5 separate regions of the Homo sapiens genome follow, and regions 2, 3, 4 and 5 are each linked to region 1. Evidence: fine-mapped expression QTL. A gene starts in region 1. Each other region holds a variant in brackets. All regions are shown on one strand. Distances are from middle to middle. Region 1 holds the start of SVIL (supervillin). Region 2 overlaps SVIL (supervillin). Region 3 has its middle 42 kb from the start of SVIL. Region 4 has its middle 130 kb from the start of SVIL. Region 5 has its middle 80 kb from the start of SVIL.

What was found.
Region 2: its variant is fine-mapped to the expression of SVIL in fibroblasts (GTEx, PIP above 0.99).
Region 3: its variant is fine-mapped to the expression of SVIL in whole blood (TOPMed, PIP above 0.99).
Region 4: its variant is fine-mapped to the expression of SVIL in whole blood (INTERVAL, PIP 0.98).
Region 5: its variant is fine-mapped to the expression of SVIL in fibroblasts (GTEx, PIP above 0.99).

Annotation. Positions count from the first base shown.
Region 1 is chr10:29,632,054-29,638,598 of GRCh38, forward strand. SVIL (supervillin) reads right to left here and starts at 2,918. Exons shown (of 38, transcript NM_021738.3): 1 at 2,367-2,918. RefSeq lists a silencer at 2,727-3,021.
Region 2 is chr10:29,579,389-29,585,933 of GRCh38, forward strand. The region is part of intron 1 of SVIL (supervillin); the gene reads right to left. Among named protein-coding and RNA genes, the nearest start is that of MIR938, 20 kb to the right of the region's middle. RefSeq lists enhancers at 4,642-5,143, 5,144-5,643, 5,921-6,421, 6,422-6,545. The variant G/A (reference allele first, on the strand shown) is at 3,632.
Region 3 is chr10:29,673,915-29,680,459 of GRCh38, forward strand. It overlaps a transcript of SVIL not described here. Among named protein-coding and RNA genes, the nearest start is that of SVIL, 42 kb to the left of the region's middle. The variant C/T (reference allele first, on the strand shown) is at 2,590.
Region 4 is chr10:29,760,487-29,767,031 of GRCh38, forward strand. No RefSeq gene overlaps it. Among named protein-coding and RNA genes, the nearest start is that of SVIL, 130 kb to the left of the region's middle. The variant T/C (reference allele first, on the strand shown) is at 3,137.
Region 5 is chr10:29,711,493-29,718,037 of GRCh38, forward strand. It overlaps a transcript of SVIL not described here and the pseudogene RNU6-908P. Among named protein-coding and RNA genes, the nearest start is that of SVIL, 80 kb to the left of the region's middle. The variant T/G (reference allele first, on the strand shown) is at 2,802.

The DNA of each region.
Region 1 (6,545 bases):
CCTAACAATCACAAGGCTCCTAGCAGCTTACTCTCCATAACGCTCCATGTAGCCCGAGAGCCCTGCATGCTGGAGCTCACCAGACATCCTTATAAAAATCCCAAGGGCCCTTTCCTTTGGATGCAATTCCTCAACTGTAGAATATTAAATAACTCGCCGGGTGTGGTGGCTCATGCCTGTAATCCCAGAACTTTGGGAGGCCGAGCGCTGGTAGATCACCTGAGGTCAGGAGTTCAAGACCAACCTGGGCAACATGATGAAACCCTGTCTCTACTAAAAATACAAAAATTAGCTGGGCGCAGTGGCATATGCCTGTAATCCCAGCTAGTAGGGAGGCTGAGGCAGGAGAATCACTTCAGCCCAAGAGGTGGAGGTTGCAGTGAGCTGAGATTGTGTCATTGCACTCCAGCCTGGGCAACAGAGCAAGACTCCATCTCAAAAAAAAAAAAAAGAAAAAAGAAAAAAAGAATACTATATAACCCCAGGTGTTGCCAAAGATGTTCACTCTGAATTGAACTCCAAAGTCTTCCAGAAGTCTGTTTATCACAAAACAGTCTGTCTCCAAAGTAGAAGCAAAGATAAAGAACTGTTTGTTGAATGGCTGACTGATGTCCACTGCAAGCTGAGCGCATTAACCAAATTTCACTTGGAAGACTATGCATGTGGCAAAATTAAATGCACCAATAGTACTAAATAAAGGTAGGCAGGAAGGCACCTAATGTACTACAATAGCTTGTATAACATCAGCCTCATCCAGTGATCAAGGTGACCAAATAAATTATCTTTAACACACACACACACACACACACAGAGTATAGACTCCAAAGTTTCCATTGTAAGACAAATTCTCTGACACTAGTGCACACTTGATGCCCTGGATCCTCAAGACATCACCGGGTGCCGGGTGCAGGGGCTCACGCCTATAATCCCAGCACTTTGGGAGCCCAAGGTGGGCGGATCACGAGGTCAGGAGTTCAAGATCAGCCTGGCCAACATAGTGAAACCCCGTCTCTACTAAAAATACAAAAAAAAATTAGCTGGATATGGTGCCAGGTGCCTGTAATCCCAGTTACTTGGGAGGTTGAGGCAAGGAGAGTCACTTGAACCTGGGAGGTGGAGGTTGCAGTGAGCCGAGATCGTGCCACTGCACTCCAGCCTGGGTGACAGCACGAGACTCCATCTCAAAAAAAAAAAAAAAAAAAAAAGACATCACTGGTTTTGGTGAGAAGAGACAGCACACATCTGCCTGGCACTGGGCTGCTCTTCTTTGGAGACAGAGGGTACAATTTATATCCTGCAGTTTTACTCAACAGGGGATACCACCAGCAGTTTGGCCAGGGTAATGCTGTATGGGACTGTCCCCTACACCATGTAAATTGGGCATTTACAATTCTTAACCACATCCTCCCAAATGCCAGTGAGTCATTGAGAAAACCTGAAACACCCCCATGCATTTTCAAACGCCCCCTAGGGTTGCCACACTATCTCCGGTGAAGAACCCTCGCAGTATTCACCGATGAAGTTCTTCTCTATAAATACTCTGTTTTCCTACCTGGTAAAAATAATGACTGCCCGTACTTGTCCATCTGATGTGGTATAAAGAAATAATCTTTTTTTTTTTTCAAAGAAGCAACACGTCAAATAAGCCTTCTATGTTCTAGAGTTCACTGCTGTTTTTCAGCAGAAACAAATCACTGAGCTAAATTACAAAGAGACCATAGCAATCTCCAGGGCTTTAAAAGGCTGATGCAGTATTTTTTCTTGGAGAATTTAAAAATAAAATGCAGTTCAAACTCTAGAACCTACAGTGAGGTTTTTCTCATAAATTCTGGAACATCGCAAGTTCTAGAAATCAAGCCCTGAAGAATGAGAGTACCAAGGCAAAGAACCCTCAGAACAAAGATTATGCAAAAGGATCACTGGTGATTTTCTATTTTTACATGAATTATAATGGCAGTGAAATAAAACTTGCCCTTCTGAACTCCACCCCCATACTTGTGCTACGATTATTAAAGTACGTTGCATTGTGAATATACTTTAATTCCAAGACTTTAAGTGCTAACATTTAGACAGAATGTACTAAGTTATATTAATCAAATTTTTAGTATTAAACCTTTCTCTACCATAAAGTAAATCCTTTAAAAAAAAAAAAAAGTCCAATCCTTCTCAACCCAAGAAATATGCCCAAGGGTATCTACAGGAATGGCTGCAGTAACTGGCAAACGCTGGCAGGAATTTTCCAATGACTGAAGTCAACAAATCCTCAGGAAACATGCTCAGACAGATGGCACTTAAAAAAAAGCAAAAACAAAAACAACAAAAAAAAACCTACTGCATTTAGATTTATAGGAAGATTTTTCACTTACTTCAAATTTCTGTATAATCCTCGTTCCTCTAAGTTAAAGGGGGAAAGAAAATCACACTGCAATTCCTTATTTTTCTAATTTAAAAAACAAAACAAAACACGTTATACCCTCGAATCCAGCTTTTGATGTCTTCGAGTATTTTCTTGGAGTCTCTTTCCAATGAATACTACTTTCAAATTCTAAGCACAAAGTAAAATCCCAAAAGTTAGCCCAAATAGCGTTGTACAAAATCAAAGATCACGATGTCAGCAAGCAACTGCATCTATCAGAAGCGATGATGATTCAGAACAGGATAAATTTAGAATGGTGTTTTCCAAAAGGCTTTTTGGATGTCAAATTCAGGAAACAGGTAAAGGCTACATCCCAAAAGTTCCTCTCCAAAAAGAACGCCAAAATATTAATAAAAAGAGTCTTCTTTTTGAAGTTTTTCGTCCCCTAGTGTCCTCGAGGCTGAACTTCCCCAACCTGGCCTCGGTGGAGCCATCCATTACTGGGCAAATCCACATGAAACCTGAGGACACTTCAGCCTGGGGAGGACGCAGTCAGAGCAGTGAAGCAACTTCACATGGGACGGGCCTTTTATGGCCTGAACTCGAGAGCCTTGATACCAGCTCATCTACCAGAAATAGCCCTGGAAATTCAGAGGAGCCCATCAGCTGTTGCAGCAGGCCTGGCCAGCAGCTACTTCAAATGCAATTAGGTTGTCCACACTGTCTTTCAGCTTGTTGTATAGAGAAATTAAAAATACAACAGCAGTCTACTGAATAAGCTACAACAATACAGATTTGGATGAGCAAACATTTCTCTAACTTAGTTTTTTTAGGCTAAAAAAAGAGCACACAATCGTTGACAAAGCTCAGACACTGAACACCCCAAAAGTAAGTAACAGACATATATACAATGAATGCCCGAAAAGTAACTAACAGACATACACATCTATGAAACAGCATGATATAATGGCACATGTCTCTACAAGTTTACAAATTCTGTAACCTCTGTGGATTTCTTCCCACTTCCAATAACTGTAGAAAATGAATCATCAGAAGAAAGCATTGTGCTGGAAGTACTTTCTCGAAAATGACACAAATATTTTCTCTTAAAGCCAAAGTCAGTCCTCTGAACTGGCAAGATCTATCTTCCTATGGCTCTCAGGTAGCTCACCTCACTGAAAAACCAGATGAACCTAACCTAATGAAAAAAATATTAACTATGAAGCACAACCACTTCTTAAATGGCCATATGCATTTTTTTAAACATTAAAAGGCCACTGACATGTTGAATACACTCAAACAAATATCACAACCCTGTTTACAAAATACTTACAATTGTAGGTCTCTGTCCCTGTCGGTACCAAGAACAGAGAGTCTTAATTGTCTGCACCAACTTCAGTATAAACCACAAACCCCATAAGACTTGGGCTGGAGTACAGCAAAAGCTGTGTGCTGCGCGGGGCCTCCCAGTGGTATGCCTCTGGGTGTCAGGGTTCTCAGACCACCAGCTGCTTCGGCCAGCACAGGAGGCCTCTCAAAGCAGGATCTAAATTCCTGTTACTAATTAACCCTACAGAACAATGCCTCTCCCTAAGAGGACAGTCCTGAGGCCAGGTGAAAAGATGACAGGTATAATAATTAAACATTGGCTTCATGACTGTTTTGTGCTAGGGGTATTTGTCCCAGTCAACTGTTTTTTTTTTTTTTTACCCATCTCAAGATAACAAACAAACAAAATTTCATAGCATGGCTTTTGCATCCTAATCTCAGTCCTGACCCTGATCTTCTTTTCCCTTGGACCATATTGGCTTTTTCCTCATTTTAAAGTTTATTTGATCTTGTTTTACGTATTTTTATAAGCTGTGGTAAGCCCCTCCCTAGAGAAAAGTAGGGCAAAAATAAATAAAAACTTACATGAAACAGTTCACTATTTGGGTCTTCTCTGTAAAGAGAAGATAGGAGGAGAAAATGAATCACTGTTACCACAATAGTGCTATTTCCTTCCTAAAAAAAGATTCACTCCCACAAAATAAACATCAGTCTTTTGTGTGCCTCTTAAGTTTTTGCACACTGCTTCCCCATAGCAACCAAACTGTCCTAGATTAATACACTGGAGTCTAATAGGGTAAATCTCCTTCGTCACTTCTTTTATATATCCTTTCTGTCTTTGATTATTTAAATCCCAGTTAATTCTTCCTGTGCAATCCATTTACTTTCCTAATTTTTTTGCTATCTGCCTGGCTTAGAAGACTCATCATACTCACTTCTTTCCAATGATGATAATCATGAATTGGAAGAAAAATCAACACACAAAAGATGTCAATTGTCCCCAAACTGATCTACAGATTAACAAAATTCCTATCAAAATCTTGCAAGGTTTTTTTGTTTTGTTTTGTTTTGTTTTGTTTTTTTGAGACATGGTCTTGCTCTGTTGTCCAGGCTGGAGTAGAGGTGTGCAATCATGGCTCACTGCAGCCTCAACCTCCCCAGGAGGCAGTCCTCCTGCCTCAGCCTCCTGAATATCTGGGGCTACAGATGTGCACCACCACACTGGGCTAATTTTTTAATTTCTTAGTTTTTGTAGAGATGGAGTCTCATTAGGTTGGCCAGGCTTGTCTTGAACTCCTGGGCTCCAGCTGTCCTCCCACTTCGGCCTTCTTAAGTGCTAGGATTACAGGTGTGAGCCACCCTGCCTGGCCTCACAGTGATTTTTGGCAGATATTCTAAAATTTATAGTAAAGGTACAGGCCCTAGAATAGCTAAAAACCATCTTGAAAAAGAAGAAAAAAGTTAGTCTGGGCGTGGTGGCTCATGCCTGTAATCCCAGCACTTTGGTAGGCCGAGGCGGGTGGATCACCTGAGGTCAGGAGTTCGAGACCAGCCTAATGAACATGGTGAAACACTGTCTCTATCAAAAATACAGAAAAATTAGCCAGGCGTGGTGGTGCACACCTGTAATCCCAGTTACTAGGGAGGCTAAGGCAGGAGCATCGCTTGAACCCAATCCTGGGAGGCAGAGGTTGCAGTGAGCCAAGATCATGCCACTGCACTCCAGCCTGGGCCACAGAGTGAGACTCCGTCTCAAAAGAAGAAAAAAGTTAGAGCAATGAATCTATCCCATATTAAGGCCTACTGGATAACTACAGTAATCAAGACAACACAGCATTGGCAAAAAGAGAGACACATAACATAGATCAGTGGAACAGACTGGAGAACCCAGAGACAGGCCCACATGAATATGCCAAACTGATTTCTGTGCCATTCAACAAACAGTGCTAGAGCAATTAGACACCCCTAGGCAAAAGCAATGAGCTTCTACCCAATCCTCATTGTGGTACATCCATACCATGGAATACTACTCAACAATAAAAAGGAACAAATTATTAGTACGTTCCACGACCTGGATAAGAATCCAGGGAATTAAATTATGCTGAGTGACAGAAAGCCAATCCCAAAATGTTAGATACTATACGAGTACACTTACATAGCATTTCCCAGATGACAACATTATAGAAATGGAGAAGAGATGGGAGTTGTTAGAGGTTAGGGATGGGGATGAGGTGGTTTAACAGGGCCACATGAGAGACCCCTGTTCTGGAACTCTTCTATTGGATTGACCACATCAGTGTCAATATCCTGGTTGTGATACTATTGTATAGCTTTGCAAGATGTTATCACTGGAGAAACTGGGTAAAAAGCCCTCATGATCACTTTGTACTATTTCTTACAACTACATCTGAATCTATAATTATCTCAAAATTAAAAGTTTAAGCAGGGCGGGGTGGCTCACACCTGTAATCCCAGAACTTTGGGAGGCTGTGGCGGATGGATTACCTGAGGTCAGGAGATTGAGAACATCCTAGCCAACGTGGTGAAACCCTGTCTCTACTAAAAATACAAAAATTAGCCAGGCATGGTGGCTGGCATGTGCCTGTAATCCCAGCTTCTCGGGAGGCTGAGGCAGGAGAATTGCTTGAACCCGGGAGGCGGAGGTTGCAGTGAGCTGAGATCATGCCATTGCACTCCAGCCTGGGTGACAAGGGTGAAACTCTGTCTCAAAAAAAAAAAAAGTTTAATTAAGTATTTTTTCCAAGGAAAAAGCATCCCAACCCCAAAAAACAAACCTACTTCAAATGAAACTTTCAAATATAATCCATTTGTAAATGGGTGACTTACTGTAACTGTACTT
Region 2 (6,545 bases), 53 kb before region 1:
GATTGCGTCACTGCACTCCAGCCTGGGTGACAGAGCAAGACTCCGTCTCAAAAAAACAAAACAAACAAACAAAACAAAAAACAAAAAACAAAAACGGGGACAATGATTCCTGCAGTCCAACTATTGACAATGTCTCAGTATGAGTCCAGGTGAGACGTGTCACCTCCCAAATTGACAAGGTCAAAAGCTAAGGCGTTAGATGACAGTCACGGTATTAAACCTTCAGGGACTGTGTAGCGCAGGTCACAGCGGCAGCTCAGACTTACAGGGAGGCTATTTGGGGAGTCAGACGCTGTCACTTGTTCTGGCTGATGACACACAAGCACCCCTGCAACGCTGTCCTTTGAGGCAACTCTCCTTTGGGGGCCATCATCCTGGGGGAGAAAACGAGGGCAAAGCCAAGGGAAAGGGAAGTAGCCAGCACTTCCACTGCAGCCAGCCATTTCCCACCAGGGCCGAACAGGATGGTGCCTGTGACCTCCCCTGGCTCATCACTGGGGGGCGGATGCAAGGCTGAGGGTCCTGGAGTATTTAATTCCTTTAGTCTTCTCGGTGACTTATCCTCATATGCAGATGAGAAAACCAGGATAGTGCCTGACCTAGGATAGATACATCAAGCGTAGACCAACAACTTAAAATACATCTCTGAAGGCAAAACAGGGCCTGGTGGTGGCTTATGCCTGTAATCCCAGCACTTTGAGAGGCCAAGTCAGGAGGATTGCTTGAAGCCAGGAGTTCGAGAGCAGCCTGGGCAACAAAGTTAGACTCTGTCTCTACAAAAAATTTAAAAAAAAAAAATTTAGCTGGGCATGGTGGCACATGCCTGCAATCCCTACTTGTAATCAGCTGCTTGTGAGGCTGAAGTGGGAGGAGCGTTTGAACCCTGGAGGCCAAGGCTGCAGTGAGCTATGATCACGCCACTGCACTCATCCAGTGTGGGCAACAGATTAAACCCTGTCTCTAAAAAAATTGTTTTAATAAAGGCAAAACAGCCATTCCCTGGCCAGCCACAACAAAATCAAAGAGGGAAATAGGATGGTGAGGTCAGGATAAAATGAGAGAACACGTATAGAAGCACTCCAAAAATGGACTGCATTATTTAATCCACACAAGGAACTCCGTATTGAAAAGGGATTCAGGTGCACTACATGCTCCTCCAGAGGTCCGTACGATGTCACCTCATGTCACCTTGTTGTGCTCAGTGAACATCAATGAAAGCACTCCCAGTCTACAGGAAAATGAGCTGGAATGAATGAATTAACTAATTAATGTATGTATGTATGTATGTATTTATTTGAGACAGGGTCTGGCTCTGTTGCCCAGGCTGGAGTGCAGTGGTACAAACACGGCTCATTGCAGCCTCAACCTCCTGGGCTTAAGCCATCCTTCTACCTCAGCCTCACGAGTAGCTGGGACCACGCCTGGCTATTTTTTGAAATTTGTAGACATGGGATCTTGCCATGTGCCCAGGCTGGTCTCAAACTCCTGGCCTGAAGTGATTCTTCCACCTTGGCCTCCCGAAGTGCTGGGATTACAGGCGTGAGCCATCAAACCAACCATGAGCTGGAATTTAAATGTACAGTATAGGGGAGTGTGATATTATGACTAGCAGTTGTCTGAATACATACTGACATGACTTATCAATACATTTCCAAAATCAAGAAGTGCTATGGAAATGATTTTAATGAAATCTACTATAAGCTACTAATGATGATGGCTGGAGTGAAATTCCAAAGTGAAGAACATATTTTCATAGCCCAGTAAAGGAGCATTTTGTATGCTAGCAACAGCCATAAATGGTATTCTCATTTTCTTTGGTGGATTTTCTTTATGTGTGCAGATCCTTAATCTGAGGCAGAACTGCCTGACCTGAGAAAATTGCCCCTAGGGAAAGCCCACTTAGGCCCTTTCATTTCCCCTTGATCACATCTCACTGGTCAGTCAGACTTTCCAGATTCCTCATTTTAGTCTAATTCTCCTCCTGCGTGCACTGTGAGATGCTCTGTGAATTTTGGTTAGTGGTAATATTTTGGACAAGCGTGCAAATAAAATGTTGCATTACATCACTGCATAAGGTAATTTGAAACAGACCACATAGGTGGAGATGAAAAGGCAAAGTACGTTCAATAAGAAATGTTGCAAGTCACAGCTATTTTTTCTTTATCGGATGTGTTGAAAGAAAACCATGCCAGCCTTTCTAAACTTCAGAATTCTTTTTTAAAGAAAAGGCTTATTGCAATCACCTAAAAGACTTATTAGTGTCTTTAAAGTTAATGTTCAAAAGAGTAATGTTAACATTTGTAATGAAATTATCTCCAATCGTTTTAGTTTCTGGTTCATTCCAAATCTATGGCTAATGACTCTTGGAAAGAAAAATTCAGGTACCTCAGAGGAAGAGAGAATGGTCAGCTGATTGTCAGAAAAGAAAGACATAGGTCAGTTCTGTGTTTAAATTACACACTGAATATACATATGATGGAATATTATTCGGCCTTAAAAAGGAAGGAAATTCTGATGCTTGCTACAATGTAGAGGAACCTTGAAGACATTATGCTAAGTGAAATAAGCCAGTCACCAAAGGACAAATACTGTACAATCCCACTTATATGAGGTTTCTAGAACAGTCACATTCAGAGACAGATAGTAGAAGGGAGTTTATCAGGGGCTGGGCAGAGGGAAAATTGGGGAGTTGTTGAATAGGTAGAGTTTCCATTTGGAATGATGAAAAAGTTCTGGAGAGGGATGGTGGTGATGGCTGCACACTGTGAGCGAATGCACCTAAATGCCACCGAACTGTTCACTTAAACGTGGTTGAAATGGTAAATGTCATGGTGTGTATATTTCAGTGCAATCTACAATAAAATGTACACTGAGGGCAAATCACAGCTGACATACAATGCAGGCACATGCTGAGCACCTGGAGAACAGCTCTTGTGAGGGGCACATGGCCGGCCCACCACTTGCCAGAGGCCAGGAGACGCCAAGGACGATTCTGACCTGTTCAAAGCCCCAACCCACAAAGGGCTCTTAAACAATGATGTGACGAATAAACATAAAACTAGCTGTTCCCAGGAACGGTGGCTCACACCTGTAATCCCAGCACTTTGGGAGGCTGAGGCAGGAGGACTGCTTGAGACCAGGAGTTAGAGACCAGCCTGGGCAACATAGTGAGACCCCCATCTTTACCAAAAACATTTTAAAATTAGCCAGGAATGATGGTGTAGTTCCAGCCACTCAGAAGGCTGAGAAGTGAGGATTACTTAAGCCCAGAAATTTGAGGCTGTGGTGAGCTTTGATCATGCTACTACACTCCAGCCTGGGTGACAGAGTGAGACCCTGTCTCTAATAATAATAATAATAATAATAATAATAATAATAATAGTAAACCTAGGTGTTCACTGTATGGGGTCTGTGGCTGCATCCCAGGACATAAGGTGCAGCATGCCACACCTTCAGAGCTGCGGGGGCCCATGCCTCTCCTCTCGTGAGAAGAAGACCTCATGCAGAGGGGAAGGGGCTGACTTGATTACAATCGTCCAGGGAGAGCGGAGAAGGCTCTGCCAAATCCAGTCATTCAGTGCTCACTACTTGATGGTTTTCACATGAACAGAAAGCAGGGAAACACTGAGTC[G/A]TCACAGAGGAGAATTTCCTGTGAGTCTAAAAGTCCAGATAGCAGACAAGCACATATATAAAATGTCTGTTGGTACCAGATAGATCATAGCTGTTCTAGAGCTAGACTCCAATAATTTGAAGGAAAGTTTCAAATAAAGTAATTTCTGGCTCTCCTTGTTCTCAGAAGGGCATCTTAATAAAGTAACAACAATGACAATCTCAGCAATAATAATCAGTATGAAAATGCAAGAAAAGCTCATCAACCTGTGATCTCCAGTGTCACCCTTGTTTTCCATGGGTTATTTTTTATTTTTTGAGACAGGGTCTGGCTCTGTTGCCCAAGCTGCAGTGCAGTGGCACAATCACAGCTCACTGCAGCCTCGACCTCCTAAGCTCAAGCCAATTCCTCCCACCTCTGCCTCCTGAGTAGCTGGGACTACAGGGGCCCACCACCACGCCTAGCTAACTTTTGTATTTGTTGTAGAGATGGGATCTCAACATGTTGCCCAGGCAGGTCTCAAACTCCTGGGCTCAAGCAATCCTCCCACCTCGGCCTCCTAGAGTGCTGGAATTACAGGTGTGAACCACTGCACCCGGCCTCCATGGGTTGTATTAACTGGTACCCAAGACCTACCAGTCTTTCAGAACAGGTCCCCAGCCCCTTGCTGATTGATGCGGGGTAGGGGAGGGCGTGTTTGTGATATTTCACACTTTCATGATTGGCTTTCTTCATGGTCATATTATTGCACCAGGAAAGCAGATCCCGTGCTCACAGTGCAGGTGCCTTGGGGAGGTCATGACACAAAATAAATCAAAGGCACATTCCACACTGTCTGTTGAAATGACTCAAGACACGTTTATGCGTGGGTGTAACATCTGATTAAGCAAAGGATATCAAACTTGGGTGGCCCTCAGACCACTTGCGGTATTTGTTTAAAATGAAAGTCCTCCCACCACAGGTGATTAGGATACGCCCACAGAATTAGAAAACCATGAATACAAGCCACCGATGATATAAAGCCTGGGAAGAAACAGGGAAACAGCATAATCAGATGGGGTGAGTGTGACGAAGGAAGGCTTCCTGGAGGACGAGACTGGAGAGCTTACTTGTGGAGGAGATGATGGCAATAGGTGAACAGGGAGGCCATGGGCCCTCACCTCCGTGCCAGGAAGAAGAGCGGACAGTGTGGGAGCTGGAACTGGGAAGAGGCCTAACCGGGGCGTGGGCTTAAATGGTCCCATCCCTCTGCATGGTAAATGCGCCTGACAGCAATCACTTAGGCACACCCTGAGAATGGCCCTGTATGGCAGCGGCACCTGCATGGGGTTCAGGGTTCCAAGCTAAGGAATCCAGGAGAGGCCAACTGGAGATTCGTTCCTTATCTATGAGGAACATCTGAGCAGCTTCCCTGCCCTGCTGCCACCACTGCATGCACAGGGGGTCTGGACTGTTTGTTTTGGGGTATGTGAAGGCTGCCAGGTGGAGATTGTCGGGGAGGTGCCAAGTGGACATGCTATTGCTATATAAACTGCATGCCTTTTGAAAGCGGTTGTGGTTCTCCCACTCAGCCCGCTGCCACTGGACTCTCTCCCCTGTATGCAAGCCCACAACAGAACCCCGTGCCTCGTTCACTGGCTCTGGGTCTCCTCTTCGGCCTCTTTAACCTGCGGCCTTCCCATGGAGTCGACACGGGTTCGGCAAGACAGCCACCCACATTCAGACGGAACGTGCTGTGGGCCCAGCCAGGGCATTCTGAGGTGGGAAGGGAGGCCGTGGACAGCCCGTGAAGAAGCATCAGAGCCATCCCTGTAGCCCAAGTGGAAAAAGAAAATTCAGATACTTGTCACACCCAGACATCAAGCTGGGATACATCATGCTGCTTGGTCTTCAGGTGGTGAGAAAATACATTAAAGAAATAGACAGGGTCTTGCTCCATCACCCAGGCTAGAGAGTGCAGTGCTGCAATCACAGCTCACTGAAGCCTCGACTTCGGGTTTGAGCAGTCCTCTCCCACCTCAGCCTCCCAAGTAGCTGGGACTATAGGTGCACATCACCATGCTCAGCTAATATTTTTATTCTTCTTCCTTTTTTTTTTTTTTGAGACAGGTTCTCCCTCTGTTGGCCAGGCTGGAGTGCAATGGCATGATCATGGCACATTGCAACTTTGATCTCCTGAGCTCCAGTGACCCTCCCACCTCAGCTGGGACCACAGGTGTGTGCCACCACACCTGGCTAATTTTTGTAGAGACAGAGTTTTGCCATGTTGCCCAGGTTGGTCTTGAATTCCTGGGCTCAAGTGATCTACCTGCCTTGGCCCCACAAAGTGCAGATATTACAGGAGTGTGTCACCATGCCCAGCCTATTCCTTATAGAGACAGTGGCCTCACTATGTTGCCCAGGCTGGCCTTGAATTCCTGGCCTCAAGAATCCTTCCACCTCATTCTCCTAACATGCTGGGATTATAGGCATGAGCCACCACGCCCGCCAAACTATTTTTTTAACAAGAGGAGAAAGTGAATTTGTGCTTTCCCTGAACAGCAAGCAGCAGATATAAGCAATGAAAAGAAGACAACGAGGACACCGCTCCATGCTCAAAAGAGACACCAGCAGAGCTGAGCCAGCAGCATCTCAGATGTCATCTCCCAACTGTGCTAAAAATACACACACACACACACTCTGAATCTGACTCCAGCAGTAAGAGCGTCCCTGTTCTCATGCAGCAGCTTATGAGCCCTGGTGCCCCAAGATCTCTGGAGGGAGGGGAGAACTGAAGCCGGGGTCCGGAGCAGTCAGGAGTCAGAGTGAGCCGCGGTTCGCGTCTGTCTTCCCGGCAGGTGTCCGACGCCTCAGCTCAATGAATGAGAAGCCGCTTAGACAAGGGATGTGAGCCAGAGCGCTCTGAGCGCGGTCACTGCCCCATCCTGAACGCAGG
Region 3 (6,545 bases), 42 kb after region 1:
ACCCAACTGTAGAAAATTCTCTAATTAAGCCTCTCATCTTTGAATGATAATGCGAAGTATGATATGCCTTGTCTATAACAAGAGCCTCAATTTAACATTTACAATTTAGCATAAATTTTTTTTTGAAAAGGTGGGGCCAAGCACAGTGGATCACACCTGTAATGAGAGCATTTTGGAAGGCCAAGGCGGGAGGTTCACTTGAGCCCAGGAGTTTGAGACCAGTCTAGGCAACATAGCAAGACCTGATTTCTACAAAAAAAAAATTAAAAAATTAGCCAGACGTGGTGGTGTGCACCTGTGGTCCCAGCTACTTGGGAAGCCAAGTGGGGAGGATCACTTGAACTTGGGAGGTTGAGGCTGCAGTGAGCTGTGATCCACTGCACTCCAGCCTGGGTGACAAAATGAGATTCTGTCTCAAAAAAAGTGGGGGGTGTTTCTTAGGGTTTTTCATGAGTTTGGTTAGAAAAGATTCATTCATTCAAAAAGGAATGAATTAGGCACTGATCGAGGCAGTGAGGAGACAACAGCAAAGCAATAAAGTTCCTGGCCTTACTGTAGTAAAATAAATTAGCTTAGAAAAATCTCAGAATTAATGTTGACAAGAATCTTCTTGGAGTTACTTATATTCCATAAATTTTCCATTATATTATATTCCACAAATAAATAAGAATGTCTCGCATTTCCAAACCAGAGACAGGTCTCCATTTGGATTGTTTGCTATAGCTTGCTGTAACAAATGACTATGTACGTGGTGACTTAAAACAACACAAATTCTTATTTATAGTTTTAGATGTTAGATGTTTGGGTCTCACTGGGCTACAAGTCAAGGTGTTGGCAGGGCCTCATTTCTGCTGGAGGCTCTCAAGGAGAATCCATTTTCTTGCCTTTTCCAGCTTCTAGAGGCCACCTGCATTCCTTGGCTCACGGCCCCTTCCTGCATCTTCAAGGCAGCAACAGCCCTGAAGACTGTGTCCCACGGCATCACTCTGACACTGACTCTCCTGACTTCCTTCTTCACTTCCGAGGACCTTTGCGATTACAAAAGTCCCACCTGGATAGTCCAGGATAATCTCCCCATCTCAAGGACAGCTGACTCGCAACCTTAATTCCCAACTGCCATATAACTGAACATATTCACAGCTTCCAGGGATTGGGATGTGGACATTTTTCGAAGAGGAGGAGAGAGGGGGCATGATTCTTCCTACCCCACATATTGCTAGAGCAATCAGGCCAATGAGCCCAGTCCACATGCATGACCCCAGTATGAAGCCTGGCATACCACCATTTCTAGAAACCAGCCCTCAGCTGGGCACAATGGCTCATGTTTGTAATCCCAGAATTTTGCAGGGCCAAGGTGGGAGGATCACTTGAGGTTAGGAGTTTGAGATCAGCTTAGGCAACACAGTAAGACCCCATTTCTGCAAAGAAAAAGTTAACCAATTAGCTGGACATGGTGGTGCATGCCTGTGGTCCTAGCTTCTCAGGAGACTGAGGCTGGAGGATCATTTGAGCCCAGGAATTAAAGGTTACAGTGAGCTACAATTGTGCCACTGCACTGCAATTGTCTCTAAAACAAAACAAAACAAAAAGAACAAGAAGAAACCAGCCCTCTCCAGGCTAGGATGTTACTCCCACCCACACAGACCCCCAGAACCTCACAAAGCACACCTCTGCTCTTCCACCAGTCCCACTGTAGCAAGTTTCCATTTCCTGTCCATCAAACCGTGTTACATCTTCACCCTCATCTGTTCTAAGAATAAAACTAATGATTTTTTCCCCCTTATCCACCCTCCCAATAGAAAAACCATACCGTTTCCTCCAGTCTTCGCCCAAGTGTTACACAAAGACTTGTTCATGATAGTAAAGATGTATTCATGGGTATCTTATTGCTACATGACTGATCAGTCCAATTGCCCATAGAACTGATGTTTATGGTTTCTTTTGAATAAACATAGAAATTGACCCTTCCCAGTCTTGAAACATAAGAAAGTTACATTTGTCTTATCTGAGCTCCTTTCTCAGGAAACCAACCATCAGTCCTCTGAGATAGTATCACAGAGCTGAAACTTACCAGATTACTGCATCTGGGCAATAAAACACCAGACCCCTCACCCATCATGATAACTACTGACCCCCTGCTTCCTGTTGACCAATTCCTCATCCTTACCTCTCTCTAATTCCTGTTTCCCATGCATGGTTACATTTCTTCCCTGCTATATAAACCCCTAATTTTAGTCAGTCAGAGAGATGGATTTGAGACTGATCTCCCATCTCCTCACCTGCAGCACCTGAATAAAGCCTTCTTCCCTGGCAGTACTGATTATCTCAGTGATTGGCTTTCTGTGTGGTGAACAGCAGCAGGATCAAGACCGAACCACTGGTGTTTTGGTAACATTACCTCTCAGTGTCACCTAAACACATACACACTCATTCATTCTTCTGTTTTTAAGTGGAAAAAAAAGAGTGTGTGTGTGTGTGTGCGCACACGCACAATATAAACTCTTTGAGAGCAAAGACTAACTTAATAAACACAAATACTAGGTAAATGCTAACCAGCTTACCCCCAATGCAGAGAGCTTACAAAGCAGT[C/T]TTTGAGCATGATGATAAAGTAAAACATGTTTCTGGAACTGCACACAGAGGTTTGCAGAGATTTCCTCTTGTCAAAGGTAAGTACAAAAAAATCCACAAGGGTTTGGCTGGCTCCAATGGAGCAAGAGAGGTCACTCTGGGCCCTGAGTTATCACCTTAAGGGGCCGGAGCAGCTGGCAGTTGGAACACTGAGCTGGACATTGGTTTGGAGAAATTAGAGCTAGCTTTTTCTGCTTTTGACAACAGCCTTGACCACACAAAGGGCTACATTTAGGTTGGCATTTGCCTAGGATGTAACGCCCATTTGGCCGTTTGGAGTCGATTTTCCACCCCTCTTTTCCTACTGGCACACAGCTGTGACCCTTGGGTCTTGGAAACACCTGTGGAGATTTAGCCTTGGTAACAACAGAGTTCTTCCCAGGTCATCAGAACCCATCTGCCTCCTAGACTAGAGATCACTTACTTACGGACATTTCTAAATAAAGGATGACAAAGTAACTGGATCAACTACATGTTTAATCATTGCTATTTAAATGTGATCATTTCTCAATTTCAAATTTAAAAAGTGTAAACTTAAGGAAAGAGAAATAATGCCAGGGACTAAATAGTATTAAATCTCCCTCCATGTGAGTGCCCCAGATGTCCTATTCTATAAAATTCTCCCCCTTCCCTTTTTGCCTTCAGCTCAGCAGACACCCTTTGCTGGGAACTCAGATGCCACAAAGATGCATTCACTTTCCACCCCCAAGTAGTGTTTCCAAGCATGCAATGTGAACGATGCTGGAAGGCTTCCATTCCTCCTGCCCCTTTGTCTTGTCATGTACAGGCGATATCCCCAAACCAAAGAAAAAATTCTGCCAAGAGAACCAAGCATGACCTAGCCCTGAATGCTGTCAGTGCTGCTCGGAATAACACCTGGGTCAGAATGACAGGGTCTCACTCTTGCCCAGGCTGGAGTGCAGTGGCACAATCATAGCTCTCTGCAGCTTCAAACTCCTGGACTCCATGCAATGGAGCCCACGTAATCCTCCTGCCTCAGCCTCCTAAGTAGCTGGGACTATAGCTGTGCAGCACTATGCTCAGCTAATTTTTATTTTTTTATAGAAACAGGTCTCACTATATTGCCTAGGCTTCTCTCAACCCCTGGGTTCAAGCGATCCTCCATCCTCAGCCTCCCAAAGTGCTAGGATTACAGGCACGAGCCACTGTGACCAGCGAGGATACATTTTCATTGGCCACTTACTGTCGGATTCCCAATTCCATAAGGAAAGAGGGAAAGGGATGGCCCTTTCCACCCAAGTGCTGTGTAAACTACATCAGGAGCTCATTTGTGCTTGATGCTCCTCCTTCAGTGATCACATCTTAATGTTCTACCTTCAACTCAAAGAAACTACAATGTTCAAGCAGGAAGCCACCCCAGCAATGATCCTGCCTACCTGCCCTCAGTCTAAGGTGCAGAAACATTTGTCTAAAATGGGCAAATATCACTAGAAAGTCATTTATCTTCCTTTTAGAAGTGAAGCCAGGGTCTACCTTATCTGAAAGACAAAGGCTCTAGAACAGCAATCCCCAGCCTTTTTGGCACTGGGGACCAGTTTTGTGGAAGACAATTTTTCCATGAACCAGGGGTTGAGGGGGATGGTTTCAGGATGATTCAAGTGCATTACATTTATTGTGCAATTTATTATTATTACATTGTAATATATAAGAAATAATTATACAACTCACCATAATGTAGAATCAGTGGAAGCCCTGAGCTTGTTTTCCTGCAACTAGATAGTCCCATCTAAGGGTGATGAGAGATAGTGACAGATCATCAGGCATTAGATTCTCATAAGGAGCATGCAACCTAGCTCCCTCAAATGCGCAGTTCACAATAGGGTTCATGCTCCTATGGAATCTAATGCTACTGCTGATCCGACAGGAGGCGGAACTCAGGGGGAAATGCAAGCAATGGGGAGCAACTGCAAATACAGATGAAGTTTCACTCGTTCACCTGCCGCTCACCTCCTGCTGTGCAGGTTCCAAACAGGCCACAAACCAGTACTGATCCATGGCCCAGGGGTTGGGGACCCTGCTCTAGAATCTTGCTAGAAACCCTGCATCTGTGAATGGCAGGTGTATGTTGATTTAGCCAAGAGGCTGTTCCCTGGAGGAATTCTGTTCAGTATAATGCAGGTAACTAGCCTGAGTAAGAAGAATCAACAAGCTTTTGTCCAAAATGAAATTAGTGAGCAGAGTAGAAGCTGGAAGATGTGTGGGGGATATTAAAACCCCTGCTCCCTTCTCGTCCATTGCTTCTGCAGCTCTCCTCTCACATTTTAGGTTGAGGGTACCCTGAGTTGACCTGAGCTGCATGACCATCTCCCAGCATTGGTTTGCTTGTAGCAGCCTGTGTATAAAATTAAAAACACCTGGGTGGCCAGGCACAGTGGCTCATGCCTGTAATCCCAGTACTTTGGGAAGCTGAGGTAGGTGGATCAACAGAGGTCAGGAGTTCGAGACCAGCCTGGCCAATATGGTGAAACCCCATCTCTACTAAAAATGCAAAATTAGCCTGGCATGGTGGCGCACGCCTGTAATCCCAGCTACTTGGGTGGCTGAGGCAGGAGAATCACTTGAACCTGAAAGGCAGAGGCTGCAGTGAGCAGAGATTGTGCCACTGCAATCCAGCCTGGGCAACAGAGAGAGACTCCGTCACAAACAAACAAACAAACAAAACAAAAAAACACCTGGGTTTAGAGCTGCTTGTAGGCAACTAAGGGGACTAACTTGCTCCACTAACTTTTACTAAATTCTCAAATGTCATGGTAAATAAAAATGACATATATTTGTGAGAAGAGAAGGTGCAGGTAATGAAGCCAGTGAAGCCACAATTTAAGAAATAGTGACAACTCCTTTCCACATGCAAGTCTCCTCTGCATCAGATGGGACTTCTTCATCAAATATGTTATTAGAAAAACAAAAACCTAAAACCAAAAGCATTGAGTACAGATTGGAAAGTCTGAAGATGAATGATTAGAAAGCCAGCCACTTTTTTTTCTTTTTTCTTTTCCTTTTTTTTTTTTGAGATGGGGGTCCCACTCTGTTGCCCTGGCTGGAGTGCAGTGGCGCTGATCACGGCTCACTGCAGCCTCGTCTGCCCAAGCTCTAGAGATTCTCCTACCTCAGCCTCCTGAGCAGCTGGGACCGCAGGCACACACCACCATGCCCCGCCAAGCCAGCCACTTTCTAAATACCTTTCTGTTGGGTGGCACTGCTAGAGGTCAGGGATCCAGTTCCACCTTTACAGAAGTTCGTTTACAGAAGCCCGAGCTACACCATTGCACAGAATATCCATGTCACAAACCTGTACATGTACCCCCTGAATCTAAAATTAGAAAAAAAAAAAAGTCCAGGTCAGGCTCAGTGGCTCACACCTGTAATCCCAGCACTTTGGGAGGCTGAGGCAGGAGGATTGCTTGAGCCCAGGAGTTCGAGACCCTCGGCAATATAGCGAGATCCTATCTCTCCTAAAAATAAAAAATTAAAAATTACCCGGCATAGTTGCATGTGCCTGTCATCCCAGCCACTTGGGGGGCTTAGGTGGGAGGATCTCTTAAGTCCAAGGGGTTGAGGCTGCAGTGAGCCGTGACTGTGCTACTGCATTCCAGCCTGGGTGACAGAATAAGATCCTATCTCAGTAATAATAAAAGTCTGTTTAGTCAAGGAGATCAGCACCAGAAACATACAGACTGGCACATGTTCTCATAGGCGTTCTGTCCACTCTCCCCGTCCCACCAGTGGAGGTGCATATGACCCAGCTAGCTTCTTGGAGGAGGCACCTGAATGGCATCTTTAGTGATCAGTCAGATGCAGCCAGTTGAGAAGGAAGAGGGAAGGTGTTCCAGGTAGTATGCAACACGAGGCCTGGAGCCTGCTATTTTCAGAAAGTTGATAGGAATTACACATGCTAC
Region 4 (6,545 bases), 130 kb after region 1:
TAAAATTGGAATATCATAAGTGCATATACAGCTTTGCAAATGGAAGGGGAAAGGGTCACCTGGTTTCTCTTCCAGCTCTATGAATTTAGAGACATCGTCTGGTCTGTCTGTGTCCGGGGAAAGGAATAGTCTTTGAGATATTTATGAGGAAGAAAAGGAAGCAGAGTGCCAAGCCCCACAGGGAGTGGTTTTGTCAGTTGCTTTCACCGCAGGCTCTGAGGAGGGGAAGGAATCCCAGGATGAGGCCCTCAGGAGCTTTTATTTATTTATTTATTTATTGAGATGGAGTTTCCCTCTTGTGGCCCAGGCTGGAATGCAGTGGTGGGATCTCAGCTCACTGCAGCCTCCACCTCCCAGGTTCAAGTGATTCTTCTGCCTCAGCCTCTCAAGTGGCCAGGATTACAGGTGCCCACCACCACGCCGGGCTAATATTTTTTGAGACCTAGTCTTGCTCTGTCACCCAGGCTGGAGTACAGTGGCACGATCTCAGCTCACTGCAACCTCTGCCTCCCGGGTTCAGCGATTCTCCTGCCTCAGCCTCCTGAATAGCTGGGATCACAGGTGCCTGCCACAATGCCAGGCTAATTTTTGTATTTTTGGTAGAGATAGGGTTTCACCATGTTGGCCAGGCTGGTCTCGAACTCCTGACCTCAAGTGATCCACCTTCCTCGGCCTCCCAAATTGCTGGGATTATAGGCCTGAGCTGCCACACCTGGCCTAGAGCTTTTAAAACTCACCTCCCCAACCTCACCTCAATTCTGATTCTCCCACATCTACCGACCATGGGTGGATGGGTGAGGGCTGGACAGGAGGAAGTAGGCAGGAAGGGTGTTGGACCTGGTTAAGGAGCTTTTCCCAGTGACAGAGGGTCCCCCTTCCCTGTCCGAAGATCTCTGGTCTCATTACCTTGTTTTCTCCAACTGGTCCTTTTCCTGAGTTGGAAAGTCACCTAGGTGACTTATCACTTATATAAATACTATTATTGGCCAGGCATAGTGCCTCATACCTGTAATCGCAGCACTTTGAGAGGCCGAGGTGGGTGGATCATTTGAATTCATGAGTTCGAGACCAGCCGGGACAACATGGTGAAACCCCATCTCAAATAAAAATACAAAAAATCAGCAGTGCATGGTGGCGTGCACCTGTAATCCCCGTTACTCGGGAGGCTGAGGCATGAGAATCACTTGAACCTGGGAGGCAGAGGTCGCAGTGAACCAAGATCCTGACACTGCACTCTTGCCTGGGTTACAGGGCAAGACTCTGTCTCAAAAACAATAAATACATATATATATACATACATACATAAATGCTATTATTGCTGGGCAATCAATAGGTTCTCTGCCCAATGTGCATAGAGACCAATACCAGGGCACTGGCTTTTGAGAAAAGAAAGTTGACTGGCAAGGAGACAGGAGGAAACTCCCAAATCTGTCTCTCCAGCTGGTGGCTGGGTCAGGTTTTATAAACATAGGGTGGGGAGGTGCAATCTGATTGGATCTTGCAATGTGTTGATGCCAGGAGGCACAATCTGACTGGATCTGGCAGGCGGTGACACTAGAGCTCTATCTGATTGGACTGTGGATCCTGCCATGTGGTGTGCGCTTCTTAATTCAGTCTCCGCTCCTCTGAGCACTTAGGTTCCTCCTGTGGTTGCACAGTCGGTTCATCTGGGCATGCTCAGGTTATGTGACCTTCGACCTGGGGGCCATGACAACTGAAAAACAACTTTGTTACATAAAAATTGAACCAGATTGGTCTGATGTGATTACACTGTCTAGTACTTATAACTATTATGTTAAATCCTATGAAAAGGCAAACATTAAACCCTCTCTTAGAAATGTAATAGTTTCAGGCCTGGTGCGGTGGCTCATGCCTGTAATCCCAGCACTTTGGGAGGCTGAGGCAGGTGGATCATGAGGTCAGGCGTTCGAGACCAGCCTGGCCAATATGGTGAAACCCCGTCTCTACTAATAATACAAAAATTAGCTGGGCATGGTGGCAAGCACCTGTAGTCTCAGCTACTTGGGAAACTGAAGCAGGCAGAAGAATTGCTTGAACCCAAGAGGTGGATGTTACAGTAAGCCGAGATCGTGCCCAGCCTGGGCAATAGAGCAAGATGCCGTCTCAAAAAAAAAAAAAAAAAAGAAGAAGATATGTAATTGTTTCAGTGGTCACTAGAGAATATATCTGAAATGCAAAATTTAATGCAAAAGTGATTTCTCCTGCTAGAGGTTTTTTTTTTTTTTTCAAGACATAGTTTCGCTCTTGTTGCCCAGGCTGGAGTGCAGTGGTGTGATCTTGGGTCACTGCAGCCTTCTGGGTTCAAGCGATTCTCTTGCCTAAGCCTCCCAAGTAGCTGGGATTACAGGCGCCCGCCACCATGCCCAGCTAATTTTTGTATTTTTAGTAGAGATGGGGTTTCCCCACGTTGGCCAGGCTGGTCTTGAACTCCTGACCTCAGGTGATCCTCCTGCCTCGACCTCCCCAAGTGCTGGGATTACAGGTGTGAGCTACTGTGCCTGGCCTAGAGTTTTTTTGAAGAGAGGTTGAGAACACATCACTCGCACCCCATGATACGTTCTGCTCTGAGCCATGCACTGAGCCGTGCGCATCCAGGCTACATAATCAGGCAATTACCCGCTCACAGAGAGGAAACCAGGAGATGTTTCGGGCCACTGCACCACGCTCTGCTGTCTCTCAGACACATTCAGTTGTAAACTTGCTTTTCCTTTGAACCAATATGAACAGGCCTCCAGGAAGCACAATTTGGGGACTAGTGGGGCTTCTTTTCTGAGTGTCAGAGTTCTTCAACCCTTCGAAAGGGGAGGTCCAGGGAGGCCCAGCAGCCCCAACCTCCACTACCCATTATTGATGGTGCTTGGAGCTGAGCCAGGGCCATGGCGGAATGGAACTCCCAATTAGATTCACTTGACACGTGAGAAATTCCGTGGAAACCGGCAATTATAAATGCATGATAAAACTTTCTGCAACAAATGAAAAAGACTAGAAGGACTTTTGAGGACAGTAGGAAAACAAGCCCTAGTGGATAACATGACTTAAGTTCTTTCCTCTTCTGTGCAACTATTTGTCTTCAGCCTTGGGAACCATCTGTGGTTTGTTCTCCAGAAAAGAGATG[T/C]GTGGAAATTCTGAGTATGACCCAGGAATTGTCACTGTTCCTCTTTCTAAAAAATTGAAGTCAGCTTTAAAAAATTATAAATGAAGTACATGCCCATGTAAACACTTCAAATAGAAGGATGCAAAAGATAAAAAATAAAAGTTTTTTCTCTTATACCTCCCGTGACCTAAATAACCACTGTTAATAGTTTCTTGCATGTCCTTCCAGAGTTTTCCACGTACACAAATGTTGAAAATACATATTTCAACATAGCCTTATATATGTATTCACTATTATATGTTCCTTTAAATAATCATTTAGTATTTAGTAACATATCTTGGCATATTTTATTTCAACACATATAGATTAGCTTTATTCTTTTTTTTATTATTATTTTTTGAGATGGAGTCTCGCTCTGTCATCCAGGCTGTAGTGCAGTGGCATGATCTTGGCTCACTGCAACCTCTGCCTTCCTGAGTTCAAGTGATTTCCTGCCTTAGCCTCCCGAGTAGCTTGGAATACAGGCACCCACCACCACCCCCCTCTAATTTTTGTATTTTTAGTAGAGATGGGGTTTCACCATGTTGGCCATGCTGATCTCAAACTCCTGACCTAAGTGATCCACCCTCCTCCAGGCCTCCCAAAGTGCTGGGATTACAGCCGTGAGCCATGGCACCCAGCCAGCTTGATTCTTTTTAATAGCTGCATAGTATTGTCTTTATAGATGTACTTTATATATAAGTTTCTATTGATAGATATTTAAGTTATATCCAGATTTTTAAAAATTGCCAGTGTTGCAGTAAAAATTCTTGATGCATATATTTTTGCACACTTATGCAAATAATAGATATTTCCTAATGCTTTTCATAGAGGTTTTCTGAGGCAGGGTCTCACTCTGTCCCCAGACTGGAGTGCAGTGGCATGATCATGGCTCACTGCAGCCTTGACCTCCCCAGGATCAAGTGATCCTCTCAAGTCAGCCTCCCAAGTAGTTGGGACTACAGGCACATGCCACCACGCCTGGCTAATTTTTGTATTGTTTGTACAGGTGGGGTTTCACCGTGTTGCCCAGGCTGATCTTGAACTCCTGGATTCAAGCAATCCACCCACCTTTGCCTCCCAAAGAGCTGGGATTACAGGTGCCAGTCACCAGGCTCAGCCTCACAGAGGTGTTTATATTTTATCAGCAATCTGTGCAAAAGGACTATTTCTCTACATCCTCATGTACCCGAGGTTTTATTAAATTTTTAAGTCTTTGACAATTGTTGTGTTTAGAAAAGTCTTTTTTGTTTCTTTTCTTTTCTTTCTTTTTTTTTTGAGACAGAATTTTGCTCTTTTTGCCCAGGCTGGAGTGTAGTGACACAATCTTGGCTCACTGCAACCTCTGCCTCCCAGATTCAAGCAACTGTCATGCCTCAGCCTCCCAGGTAGCTGGGATTACAGGCACGCGCCACCATGCCCAGCTAATTTTTGTATTTTTAGTAGAGACGAGGTTTCACCATGTTGGTCAGGATGCTCTCGAACTCCTGACCTCAAGTGATCGGCTCCCCTTGGCTTCCCAAAGTGCTGGGATTATAGACATGAGCCACCTCGCCCCGCCCTTTTTTGTTTCAATATGCATTTCTTTCATAAGCGTTCCCATCTCAGTCTTTTTGCAAAAATAATGCAAATCACATTGTGTAAAGATACCTGCAACTACAAAAAGAGGACTGGAATTCAGCAACGTTTTGTGGATTGAAGTGTCCCTCAATCTCACCATTTCCACCATCCAGGTAGTTTCACGAACCAAGTGGCTTTGGAGAAAAAAATCCAACAGGGTAGACCAGAAGATGGCTTATTTATAAACCAGTGTGCTGATGAAAAAGCATTGATGTTGGCATCCAGACACAGCTCAGACTCTCACTGCTCTTGCTGGCTCTGTCCACAGGACACTGATTACATAGACGTGGTGACAGCAGGGACACTCTGCCATCCCTATGCTAACCTGGCATTGCAACCTGAGCAAAGCCAGGCTCATGTGAGGAGCAACTTCCTAAAGCAATCTTTTGTTTTTACTTTTTTGGGGTTGGCAGGGCTAACAGCTGTTTAGAGGTTTATAGTTAAGGCATGGATTAAGAGTCAGCTCATTCTCTTTATCTCAGCTCATCTGCCCCTTAAATGATCCTATTGGGTATCACAGCAGGTATAGACTTAGCAGCAGATCTAGGGCACGGGACGAAGAGGGAAGAGCAGTGGATCTGTCAATCCGTGCACAGATTTCCAGCTGCTCACCATATGCCTTAGTCATCTTTAGAGGCCTCATTTGCTTCCTTTCACATGGCGGAAATTCCCAGGCAAATGACTTCTCAACCCCATGCCTCCAGCTCTACCTGGAGTTTAAAGGTGGCCATCAGGGATCCCAGAGAGCATCAGATAAGGCCACTAGAAAACAGGCAGGTTGGGAGTCTTGCACCTGCACGGGGCTGGGCCCAGAGCAGCTCAGTGGCAGCCTCTTCCTTCCCAGATATTTTTCCTTGGGCCACACGGAAAAGGCACCATGTAACATATTGGTTAATCCTCAGGCTTATAACCTGATATGCTGGGGTTCAAATCTCAGCTGATCCCATTAATTGCTGTGTGGCCTAGAGAAAGCTACATAACCTCTCAGCTCCTCAGTTTTAGGGATGATCATCATACCTAACTCACAGGCTATGAGGGTTCATGTGGGACCATAATGTACCAGACCACTGCTTGGCCTATAGCATGTGTTCAATCAATATTGGGCTGGTGTTATTGCAACTGGCATGTGACACACCAGCTATACTAGTGTGAAAAATCTATATTTCACTTCCACATCTGAGTGACAGTGAATTACTAACTCCAGGATTCATCTGAAATCAGCTCTTTTTGTCACCAGCTTGACCTACTTAATCTGATTTACTACCTTACTTGTTTTTCATGGGAAGACTCACTCTTTCAGCATCAGGACTTGAAGCAAGGTGCCCAGGCTTGGTTTAGCAGTGTTGTAGAGCTACACACAGTACGTGCAGCTGCAGTTCCTTCTACATTGCCCACCAAAAGTGGCTGTGGACTCAGGACAACCACGCCCATGAAGGAGCTTGGACTTGATTGTGTTAGATGTGGGACCTAAGTGTGGGGAAAGTTCTCTACTCACTGGGCAGGATCAGATCAAAAGACAAAGGACCAGAGAAGCACTTCTCTAGGATCTCATCTTCCCCTTTGCTTCCAAGTCCCACATGTTAATTTGTGTTAGTGGAATGTGTGAGAGGAGGCAAAGATCGATGATGTTTCCCAGTAATTCCTAAAGTGTTCCTGACTTGCAGCACAGTGTATGCAGTTAATCCACTCACAGAGACAGGGAATGACAAAGAGAGAGCTAAAATGTGTGCTGTTTAGATAACAAATCATAAATTCAAAAGAGTTGTGTAAT
Region 5 (6,545 bases), 79 kb after region 1:
ACTCACGCCTGTAATCCCAGCACTTTGGGAGGCCAAGGTGGGCAGATCACCTGAGGTCAGGGGTTCCAGACCAGCCTGGCCAACATGGTGAAACTCCGTTTATACTAAAAATGCAAAAATTAGCCAAGTGTGGTGGTGCACCCTGTAATCCCAACTACTCAGGAGGCTGAGGCACAAAAATCACTTGAACTCGGGAGGTAGAGGTTGCAGTGAGCCGAGATCACGCCATTACACTCCAGCCTGGGTGACACAAAGTGAGACTCTGTCTCAAGGAAAAAAAAAAAAAGTGCCATGATTTAGAGCAACTGGTAAAAATTAGCAGAATGAACTCAATTGGAAAAGATATTAGAGCAGCTGGGCACGGTGGCACATGCCTGTAATTCCAGCACTTTGGGAGGTCAAGGCAGGTGGATTACAGTACATGTACTAAAATTGGAATGATATACTAAAATTGGAAGATCAGCATGGCCCCTGCGCAAGGATGACATGCAAATTCATGACGTGTTCAATATTTTTTATATATTTTAATAAAAATATAAAAATTTAAAAAATTTTAAAGAAAAAGATATTAAGAACTATCTATTTTGAGTGATGCTGCAGTTGTGATATTAGAATTATAGAGAGGGAAGTATAATCACAGCAAGCACTGCTTGGCTCTTCTACAGACAGTATTTACATTAACACTGCTCATTGGCTTGTGCTGCGGTTTGGATATTCGACCCTTTGGAACATTGTTGAAATCTGATCCTCTATGTTGGAGGCGGTGCCTAATGGCAGGTGTTTAGGTCATGGGCGTGGATTCCTCATGAATAGATTAATGCTCTTTCTGGGGGGCGGGGAGGCAGTGAGTGAATTTTTGCTCTATTAGTTCCCAGGAGAGCTGGTTGTTAGAAAGAGCCTGCGACCTTAGCTGGTTGTTAGAAAGAGCCTGGGACCTTCTTCCTCTCTCTCTTGCCTTCTCTCTCGCTATCTGATCTCTGCACATGCCAGCTCCTCTCTGCCTTTCAGTATATGTGGAAGCAGCCTGAGGCTTTCCCCAGATGCCCAATCTTCCAGCAGCAGAATCGTGAGCCAAATAAAACTCTTCTTTATAAATTACCCAACCTCAGGTATTCCTTTATAGCAACACTAAAGGGACTAAGACAGCTTGCAACCTTTAGACTCAATCAATGGGCAATGCAAGGAAAATATTTCCAGATAGAGAAGGCAAATGTTATCAGACTCAACACTGTAAAAATAAAGACATAGCTGAGAAAAGCTGAAAGATGGACAACAGGAAAAGAGAGGAATGCGGAAGGTTAGTGGTACTAGTCCCCTCATCTTATAAAATTTGGCACCTAATAGGTAGGAAATAAATGCAACAAGATATAGAGGTTTATGAACATTAAAACTGCAATGGTAGGGCTGGGCACGGTGGCTCAGGCCTGTAATCCCAGCACTTTGGGAGGCTGAGGCAGGTGGATCACTTGAGATCAGGAGTTCGAGACCAGCCTGGCCAACATGGTGAAACCCCGTCTCTACTAAAAATACAAAAGAATTAGCTGGGTGTGGTGGCGGGCACCTATAATCCCAGCTACTCAGGAAGCTGAGGTAGGAGAATTGCTTGAATCTGGGAGGCAGTTGCAGTGAGCCAAGGTGGCACCACTGCACTCCAGCCTAAGCGACAGAGTGACAGTCCATCTCAAAAAAGAAAAAAGAAAAAAAAAAACTGCAGTGGTAATCAAGAGAGGAATTCATGTACTGATAAAACTAAGAAGTTGTACATGCCTCTGTGTGTGTGTGTGTGTGTGTGTGTGTGCATGTGAACGTGGTCTATCAAACAGAGGCAACCCAAAGCACATACATCAGAAACGGCTGAGTGAGGAGTTATACAACTATTAGTAATAACCACTAAAATAATTTTAACAGGAACCATTAAAAATGTGTTGCTTCTGGAACAAAGCTATTGCTTTTCATTTACAGCATTCCTCCACGATCTGATTTTTTCAGCCATGTTCATGAATCACTTTGAAAATAATCCTGTGTGTAGGAGTCAGCAAATTTTTTTTTTCTGTAAATAACCAGATGGTAAATATATTTTTGGCAGTATGGGCCATACAGGTCTCTGTCACAACTCTGCAACTTGGCTATTCTGGGGCAAATAGACAATTCATAAATGAATGAGTGTAGCTGTGTTCCAATAAAACTTTATTTACACAACAGGTGGCAAGAGGGATTTGGCCTGCAGGCTGCTATTTGCCGACCACTGATCTATTCCAGCATTTCCCAAACTATGTACTACAGGATACTCCAATATACTTGAAGCTTTTCCTCCAAAAGAGGGAGAGTTTCCAGTTCAAAGAGTTTAGAAAATGCTAGGTTTAAAAATGTTAAGCAGATTTCTTTACTTCAAGGCTTCTTGCAGTCTCTAATGTGCTTATGAGCTTTTGGAAGCCAAATATGGAATAGAATTCAGCACACAGCATTTCTCCAATTTCCATGGATATACTGGAGAAGCACCCAATCAATGATATCTCAAGGGCCACTAGTGTTGGGTGGGAAGGCTTGGGAAGCAATGTCATCATCTAATTCCTACCTTGTATAGACAGAAAAATGAGGTTTAGAGAGTGGGAAGTTACTTGGCTGAGGCTACTCACCTAGACGGTGTCAGAACTGGGACTGGAACCCAGGCAGCTTAGGGTTGTTGCTGCCATTTCAGAGGGCCATTCCTTCATTTAGATGGCCCCATAACAAACCAGTGCAAAGCTATCCTGAGTCATCTCCATCCCGAGGGATTTTCCGGAAGGCACTTTGAAATTACA[T/G]AACGACATAGATGAACCAATACTTAAACCTCAAAAAAGGCGAAGACTATGGGTTCAGATTTTATTATTTTATTTAGAAACAACATGAGGTGAGGTGAACTGATTGGACACATTCACCACGAGTCTTTCCTAATTTCTAATACAAGGTGGAGCAATAGAAAAAAATAGAAAATAAGGAGAACAAAGTCTTTTTCTCAACTTTTTTAGGATTCTAGACTATACTATTCAGTGTTACTAAAGCACACTTTGTATTTTATGAATCATCAGTGATGAGTAAGTACAGATTAAGCTCTATCTGAACATGCAGCAGTGTACAAAGCACAGAGCAAGAGTTTTGGAGATAAAAGAAAGTTTAGGAGGATCAGAGACAAAAGAAAAAGGCTTGGCCGGGCGTGGTGACTCATGCCTGTAATCCCAGCTCTTTGGGATGCTGAGGTGGGAGGATCGCTTGAGCTCAGGAGTTCAAGACCAGCCTTGGGAACATGGTGAGAGCCCATCTCTACAAAATAATTAAAAATTAGCTGGGCATGGTGGCACACAGCTGTGGTCCCAGCTACTCAGGAGGCTGAGGTGGGAGGGTCACTTGAGCCTAGGAGGTTGAGACTGCACCACTGCACTCCTGCCTGGGTAACAAAGAAAGACCTTGTCTGAAATTAAAAAAAAAAAAAAAAAAAGAAGAAAAAGAAAAGAAAAAAGAGAAGGAAGGAAGGAAGAAAAAGACTTGAGAAACCTAAGATCTAAGTAAACACCCCTAATATTTTGTGAAGGCAGTACAAAAATATGAACCAAAGCAATATAACTCTAAACAAAGAAAACGGTCAGAATATAAATTGAACTTTAAACAAAAAAAGAGGAGGAGTTTAATCAGGGTCCAGGCAAGGTGAGTATATCCACTCTGAAAATAACATCTTGGTTCATAAGTTGGTTTCTGAATTCTAGAATGCTTTATATCATTATTTTGTATTCAACACACAAACCACCCATTCCATTTTCTTCATATTTTTCAGGTGTCATTTCATAGCCTATGATGATTAATTGAGATGGATTTTTGAAAACCTTCCTAGCCAACTTAGCTAAGGGACAGCTTTCCCCTAACACTCTCGTGATTGGTGTGAAAATGAAACCTGCTCCTTCCAGAACAATGAGAATGCTACCTCTGCCGACAACATTCCCATCCAACTAAGATCAAGCCAGATTGCTCTTGAGTCATTGGTTAGTAACCCATGGGAAGAGGAAGAGTAGCTGCAGTTGACCTATAAACTCTGCCTTGGCCTTGTCCCAAGCTAATCCCTATTACATCCCACAGACTGTCCCTGGAGTCAGAAGTTGTCCCCAGACTTGTCCTAATGGCCTAGCACAGTGGGAAGTTGTCCAAGAGTCATGGTCATCAAGAGACCTTCAGAGACCACTTAATTGTACAAGACTTTATTTGCCAAACTCCTAAAATTCCTGAGTGCCATGGGACAAGGCAAGGAAGATGTAGTTGCTGGGCAAGAAAAGTGAGCAACCATCTAGTTATTGATACAAGGTTCCTAGGTTCAAATGCAAGTAGCCCCTGGCCTGTGCTGTCCAATACAAGAACCAATGGGCACACATGGCTACTTAAGTTGGTGAGTGCAACTGAGGAACTGAATGTCAACTTTTAATTAATTTCACATGATTTTATTTAAATGTAAAAACTGAAGCAATGTAAAACATGTTCCATTAAACATTAATGCATTGCTTTGGTAGAACTACATTTTACTTTAAATACTATATTGCTTAAAATATTATTTGGTGCATTGTAGCAGATGAGTCTACAAAGGAAAGCATCACTGATCTACTTGGTGTCAATAAAGTGTTTCCATTTAAATGTTTTTTTCTAAACACTGATGTAACACTGTAATGTGTTCATATGAATATTTTACACAGACAGCACAAGTTATGGTGATAACTATGTAAATCATAATTGGTAATTATATCAAAATACTTGTTTTAATTAAGATATAATTACATTGTTTCTCTAGTTTATAAAATAAATATGGCCAATTTTTCTAATTTATCACTTTGAAAATTTTGTAGCAGTCCTAACACAGAGACACTTTCCAAAGCCTTAGGACTGATACAAAATCCAGTGGAGACACAGAAATTAATAATACAATCAGAACAGTCAAGAAAAAAAGAGACAGGAGAGGAAGGTAAGCAAAAAGCAACATAATCAATGGCAATTATAACTTGCTGTGGCAGAGCAAAAGGAGAAAGCTGTGTGTTACATAAAAAGTCAAAGATAATAAAGCAGAAAATATTAACAGACAATTTCAGCAAAAACATAATGAATTTGATGCCATCTCCCCTCGACAGTCAAAAACAGATCAATGAAATTAGTCACTCAAAATAAGAATGGCCAAAAAAATTGTTTTAATGATTTTTTACATCTCAGCTCATAACTCTGGCCAGTTATAAAACATCTTGGATTCTTGAAGCAGTTTATGGAACTGCTGAAAGAAATAGAAAACCAGAAATGATTGATCATGTGTTCTTTGCCAATGATCTCTGGTTGAATCATAGAAGAATTTTTACAAACATTCACTGTACAGTTAACTACAATGCAGGATTTTCTTTACAAAAAAAGAATGCTTGCTGAAGCAAGAAATGAAGACAAAAATAGGCACTGTGGGCTGGGAGCCGTGGCTCACGCCTGTAATCCCAGCACTTTGGGAGGCCAAGGCGGGTGGATCACAAGGTCAGAGATCGAGACCATCCTGGCTAACATGGTGAAACTCTGTCTACTAAAAATGCAAAAAACAAAAATTAGCCGGGCGTGGTGGGGGGCCCCTGTGGTCCCAGCTACTCGGGAGGCTGAGGCAGGAGAATGGCGTGAACCCGGGAGGCGGAGCTTGCAGTGAGCCGAGATCACGCCACTGCACTCAAGCCTGGGCGACAGAGCAAGACTCTCTCTCAAAAAAAAAAAAAAAAAAAAAAAAAAAAAAAAATAGGCAGTGTGATTTATGTTTTTTTTCACAGATATCACACACTATATATGAAAGAGCTAAATTTAAAGTTTCAAGGAAAGGAAAAACTTACTTATGACCTAGCTAGAGAGGCAGGAGAATTTATGTCAAAATTGACATTTTTCATAAGAGAAGTAAAAAATAATGGTTTCATACATTTTTGTAACTTGAATCAATATGTGGATGACTTCACTGAAATCAAAAGCATTATATAAATTGCCTTCAAAATCCATAAGAAAATGTTGGGGAATACTTTGTTGATATTGATAAATTTAGAGTTAGTTTTTCCATTTTTGCAATATTCCTTTGAATTTAATGTCAACAATTCTGAGCTGGCATAAGAGTTAGTGAATTTGCCTAAGTTGAACAGATGTAGCTTTGAAACTGATATTTTTTGTTTCAAAAAGTCAAATTAATTATTCTAAAAAAGATGAACCAGTTTTGTCAAGTTGAATGCGAATATCGTGGAGAATGATTTTTTGATGCTGAGTTCAGTTGCTGGAGAACTTGTATATTTGGGGTTTGGTTAACAAATATACTTTTTCAACTATAAATTTTATAAAAGCTAAATATAGACCAAGTATTTCAGATAAAAATGTAGTATCTGATAGCTATAACATACATATCAAATTTTAAGACTTACTATAAAATTTAAGAAAAAATGTCTCATTAATATTTTTACATTGATTACATGTTGAAATAACATTTTGGGTAGACTGAGTTAAAGAAAATATATAATTAAATTAATTTCACC